Regions from separate parts of the Homo sapiens genome. Here region 1 is linked to region 2. Evidence: fine-mapped expression QTL. A gene starts in region 2. The other region holds a variant in brackets. All regions are shown on one strand. Distances are from middle to middle. Region 1 overlaps CDV3 (CDV3 homolog). Region 2 holds the start of BFSP2-AS1 (BFSP2 antisense RNA 1).

Region 1 (2,916 bases), 90 kb before region 2:
TGAATTACCTACCAACCAGAAGTGACTGCAGAATTTGGAGGCTAGAGTGACAATGAGGAAGAGTGGAAAGAAGAACAGATTTATCTCGTCTACATTTACAGCAAGATTTTACTTACAACTTTATCTGAGAGGAAAAAGGATAGAGAATATGGCAATTCATCCCTAAGAGGTCTGAGAAAGAAAAAAATGCAATTTAAAATAAAAATATAGCCAAGCCATCTCTCAGTTTTCCTTTTCGTTAACATGTAAGAGAATTCTATGCAGCCATTTAAAATGTAAACCCTATGCTGACATGGAGGTAGTATTCATGTCATATAAACCAAAATTCACTAAAACAACATCTATATACCTAATATAAATACAAAAACATCTACAACAATTTTAAAAAGTTTTATAGAGTAGCTCTGGGTGCTAGAATGTATGACTTTATCTTCTTCATGCAGCAAGCAATTAGGAGCAGATTCTAAAGTCAGGCTTCCTGGTTCAAATCCAGGCTCTGCCACTTACCAGCCAGGAAACTTTGAACATGGCACTTCATTTCTTTATACCTCAATTTCCTCTTATGTAAAATGGAGGTGACAACCCCATAATAATCAGCACTATTTACTGATTATCCCTAAATAGAAGAGACTACAGATAATTCTTACATATTTCTTTATGCTTCTACATTTTTCTCAAAAAAATTTCTAAAAACAAGCATATTATTTTTATAACCTACATAAAAAATCATTTTTTATTTTTAAAAATTAATTTTTAGAGACAGGGTCTTGCTCTGTCACCCAGGCTGGAGTACAGAGGCCCAATCTTAGCTCACTGCAATCTTCAACTCCAGGGCTCAAGAGATACTCCCACCTCAGCCTCCCAAGTAAGCTAGAACTAAAGGTGCAGACCACCACAATTGGCTAATTTTACTTTTTTACATTTTTTTGTAGAGACAGGGTCTTGCCCAGGCTGGTCTTGAACTCCTGGCCTCAAGTGATCCTCCTACCTCTGCCTCCCAAAGTGCTGGGATTACAGGAGTGAGCCACCACGCCCAGCCTCACAGAAAGCTTTTAAATAAAAACTCCTATTTGGTCTGATGGAATAGTGACAGTATCTCAACTGGAAGTTTTTTTTTTACTGTCTAGTGTCTAACATCTCCTTGCCCTTAGGAAAAAAATTAAAAAATAAAATAATCTCAAATTTAAAATACACCTAGTTTACAAACTATTACCAAAAAATAAGCATAATCTGTTTAATTAGAGGGATTGTACATCAATAATAAAAGGCACAAGGAGACAATTTAGTATTTTGGATTCTTGGCCAGGTGCAGTGGCTCATGCCCTAATCCCAGCACTTTGGAAGGCCAAGGTGGGAGGATCACTTGAGGCCAGGAGTTCAAAACCAGCTTGAGCAATATAGCAACACAGTGAGACTCTGTCTCTATTTTTTTTTTTTGAGATGGAGTTTCACTCCTGTTGCCCAGACTGGAGTGCAATGGCCTGATCTTGGCTCACTGCAACCTCTGCCTCCCGGGTTCAAGCAATTCTTCTATCTCAGCCCA[C/T]CAAGTAACTGGGATTACAGGCATGCGCCATCATGCCCAGCTAATTTTTTGTATTTAGTAGAGACGGGGTTTCACCATGTTGGCCAGGCTGGTCTCGAACTCCTGACCTCAAGTAATCCACCTGCCTCAGCCTCCCAGAGTACTGAGATTACAGGCGTGAGCCACTGTGCCCGGCCAAAAGAAATTTTTTTAAATAAATATTTTGGGTTTTTCCAAATGTACATTAATAATAGACTGGATAAAGAAAACGTTGCACATATACCCCAAGGAATACTATGCAGCCATAAAAATGGATGAGCTCATGTCCTTTGCAGGGACATGGATAAAGCTGGAAACCATCATTCTCAGCAAAATATCACAAGGACAGAAAACCAAACACTGCATGTTCTCACTCACAAGTGGGAGTTGAACAATGAGAACAAATGGACACAGGGAGGGGAACATCACACACCAGGGCCTGTTGGGGGGTGGGGGACTGGGGGAGGGATAGCGTTAGGAGAAATACCTAATGTAAATGACAAGTTGATGGGTGCAGCAAACCACCATGGCACATATATACCTATGTAACAAACCTGCACGTTGTGTACATGTACCCTAGAACTTAAAGTATAATAATAATAAAAATAAATAAGTATTTTGGGTTAAGATTCTGAAATACTAGCTAAACTAAACATGTGGAAATTGTCTAGTCAAGACTCTTTATCAGCCGGGCGCAGTGGCTCATGCCTGTAATCCCAGCATCTTGGGAGGCAGAGGCGGGCAGATCACTGGAGGTCAGGAGTTCGAGACCACCCTGACCAACATGGTCAAACACTGTCTCTACTAAAAATACAAAAATTAGCTAGGCGTGGTGGCACATGCCTCTAATCCCAGCTACTTGGGAGGCTGAGGCAGGAGAATCGCTTGAACTTGGGAGGTGGAGGTTGCAGTGAGCGGAGATTGCGCCATTGCACCCCAGCCTGGGTAACAAAAGCAAAAACTCTATCAAAAAAAAAAAAGAACGAACAAACCAAAAACACTCTTCATCCAACAATTGAAGGAATTGAAGCCCAGAGATGCTTAGAGGCTTGCCTAAATGCCAGTTAGCAGGGTAGAAATGATTTACATATTTTATTACTTTTTCATCTTTACATATTTCAGAAAGTATCAACTCTCCAAATGTCATAGCAGAACAAGAAACACGTTCCAAACGGTTATTTCCATGGGAGACAGGCTGAAATTCAGTGTTTGACCCAAATATAATATATAGCTTCCCATCAGCTAAATTTTATAAACAAACACTACAATACTGCTGTAAATTCATCACAATTCCACATATACGGTCTTAAATATGTGTAAGTCTGTAAGGCACTACTGGTAAGGTGAGGAGAATA
Region 2 (2,916 bases):
CTCAGCACTCCTGGGCTGCGTGCTCTAACTCTGGGAGGGCTGGTGCTGGGCGCCTGGCTGTGCTATCTGAACCCTCAAGGTTAGGAATCTATTCTGCTGGAGGGGCTGAGTTGTTCCCAGTCTGCTGGCCACAGCACTGTGATGGAAGATGCTAGCCAAAGCACTTGGTCAGGGTGGTGTCAGTGAGATCTGTGCTTACTGATGTATGGCAGCAGCTGCAGCAGCATGGCGGGGTGCACACGTGTTAGCTGGGGAGGGGTTCCAGCAGAAATGGGGAGGCGGTGTTCCTGCATGTGCTCATGCCAGTGGTGGTGGTGGTGCATTGGTAGGGGGGAAAATGGGGGCTGGGGCACTGGCAGCCGTGGGGTTGCTGGTGTTGCACTTGTACTGGCGGTGGTGGCAGCTGGGGTGGGGTGCTGGTGGAGGTGAGGTTGCCAGCATTCATGAGCATGTTATAAAATTTTTAAATTTTTGTCTCAATTTTTTTTAAGTCACAAACATTTTTATTGGAAAGCAATGAGCTGCAGCAAAGTGACACTCAGTGCATGCAGCCAAATGGGTGAGGTGGGGGTACAGGTGGGTGCCAAGAGCTGACCCAAGACTAGAGCTCATGACCTCTGGGGCCTCTGGCTATAAGCCCTTTGGGCTGGAGTGTGCAGGCCCAGCAGAAATACAAAAATAAACTCTGTGGTCTAGCTGTCCCTGCCTGTGGTAGTTCGTTTGGGCAAGGTGGTTACTCTTTGCAGCAGGTCCTGTGCTGTCTAGTCCAGCCACAGCGTGGGCAGCAGAAGCCTATGGGGTTGAGTGGACACCTACAGGCTGGAGCCAAAGGGCCAGGCAGGTGTGGCCTTGGGCAGTGCTGAGACTCTGACAGCACCAGGGTCTGGCCTGCAGCTGGGGAGGCCTCAGGGCCTCTCAGGTGGGCAGGTCCAGGCATTGGTTGAAGCTGGATGAAGCTGGGGCCTGTGCTACTCCTCATCACATACAAATCACTGGGAACCTGTCCTCCTTGGTCTGGTCTCTTCGGCCCCACCCTCACTGCCTCCACCTCTGCTTCCTTTCTCTTCCTCCTCTTCCCCCAGTTCCAGGTCCATCTCGTTGCCTGCCTCTGAGGGTGTGCAGGTGGAGCTGCTAATGGAGCGGTGGCTGAAGAAAACAATTTGCTTGAGCCCTTTGTTGTAGAAGAAGTAGTTGAAGGACCAGAGGGTATCTTCTTCTCTGAAGGCATCTGGGTCCATGTCTGGGTTATAGCTGTGGGTGTCTCATTAAGCCAGGTGGATCTCCTCATCCACTGTGTTCCACAGCTGTGTTCTAGGACCTTGATGTCCCCCCACGCAGCTGAGAACAGACTGCGGTTGACTGCATTCACCACCCACCTGAGGCTGGGCTTCCGGCTGAACCCATGGCTGCGGGCTGTGCTGAGGTCATAGTCAGGCCTGAAAGGACTCGCTGAGCATGACAATCAAGTGGAAGAGGGTCTTGCAATTGCACTTGTCCCTGAGGGGGGCCCTTGTCCTTGCCACCTTGGTTCTTGCTCAGGCTGCTGGGGCTGAGGCCTGAGGTCTGGGATGGGGAGAGAGCCTTCAGTATGTGGGCCGCCCTCCTGTCAGAACAGTGTTTGTCGTCTCCTGCTATCTTACGTGAGTAGCTCTCAATCCTGCTGATAATGTGGGTATCTTTGCTCTCTACAGTTAGCTGTGAGTTGATGGCTTCAAAGCCCAGTTCTCCAATAGCTTCCTGTCTCAGGGAGGGAGCTCCATGCTTGAGAGGGGCCATTGCTGCCTGCCTGGTGGGGCTAAATCAGGCCTGGCTGGGTCATCGGCACCGGTGCATAGGCAGGGCAGGCTCCGCACAGTGTGGGCTCCTCAGCACCAGAGGGTGGCACCGTGGCATCCACCTGGGCCACACTGTATCTGGGGGAAGAAACTCCATGGCAATGTTTCATTATACCTGGCCCTGCTGGCTCATCCAGGTGGTCACTATGACACATCCTTACCACACTGCACATTGCCTGCTTTAGCCACCAACATGCCACCAACCACCACAGATCACCTTGGTCAGCCAGCAACCTCCACCTCCCCCACCAGTCAATGTCTATCAGTCAAAATTCCTAGAACTAAATAAGTATAAAAGAAACTTAACTACTTCAACTTAAAAATAATTTGCTTCTGTCTGCCTATGAAAATGTTAATATTTGTGAAATCTGAGTGAAGGGTATATGGCAATTCTTCAACTATTCTTTCAACTGCTCTGTAAGCCTGAAATTATGTTAAAATAAAAATTCAAAAACAAAAGCCAAAAACCTTGTACCCTTAAGGGTTACTTGAGTTAGTGGTTCACAGCAACAGATACTCAAATCTGGTTTGTGTTACTTCTGAAAATTAAGCTTCATATCTTTTTCTTCATGGCTCTTTCTGGTGTAAAGTACAACTTGAATCTCATGTTAGAAGGTCTATCCCAACAAAGCCCAGACCACTGGACTCTAGAGGCTTCACGCATGTGGCAGACTCCTGAATATTGTCAGGCTTTATCTCCCATTTTCTGGCATTGCAGGTACTTTACTAAGGCATTTAGGTGCTAGCTCTTTGGGGCTCTCCAGGTCCAATTAGCATGATAAAGATATGTAATGGATCAGCTTGGGCTTCTGGGTCCCTCCAGATTGCATTCTGACTAAGTGCAGGCAAGCCGACATAGCCCGGAGGCAGGACAGTAAAAGTATACTGCTGTCCCTGCCACAACAGGGCAGAAGAGGATTAAGGTGGGGGTGGGCAGGATAAAGCATTTGCCAGGTCAATAGTGGCCCAGGTGCCAGGGACTGTGTGGATTTGCTCCAGTAAAAATACCGTCTCTGCAATTCTGGTTGTGATTCACCTCACCACTGGATTAGTCCGTGATGATCTGTGGTCATTTTCTATG

What was found. PIP is the estimated chance that this variant, and not a neighbour inherited with it, causes the effect. A credible set is the group of variants that fine-mapping cannot tell apart.
Region 1: its variant is the best candidate, but not a certain one, in a credible set for the expression of BFSP2-AS1 in whole blood (INTERVAL, PIP 0.86).

The regions. Positions count from the first base shown.
Region 1 is chr3:133,579,224-133,582,139 of GRCh38, reverse strand. All of the region lies in intron 2 of CDV3 (CDV3 homolog), which reads right to left. Among named protein-coding and RNA genes, the nearest start is that of CDV3, 7.0 kb to the right of the region's middle. The variant C/T (reference allele first, on the strand shown) is at 1,544.
Region 2 is chr3:133,489,626-133,492,541 of GRCh38, reverse strand. It overlaps BFSP2-AS1 (BFSP2 antisense RNA 1), which reads left to right and starts at 1,433. Exons shown (of 4, transcript NR_189064.1): 1 at 1,433-1,640. It also overlaps the pseudogene MAF1P1.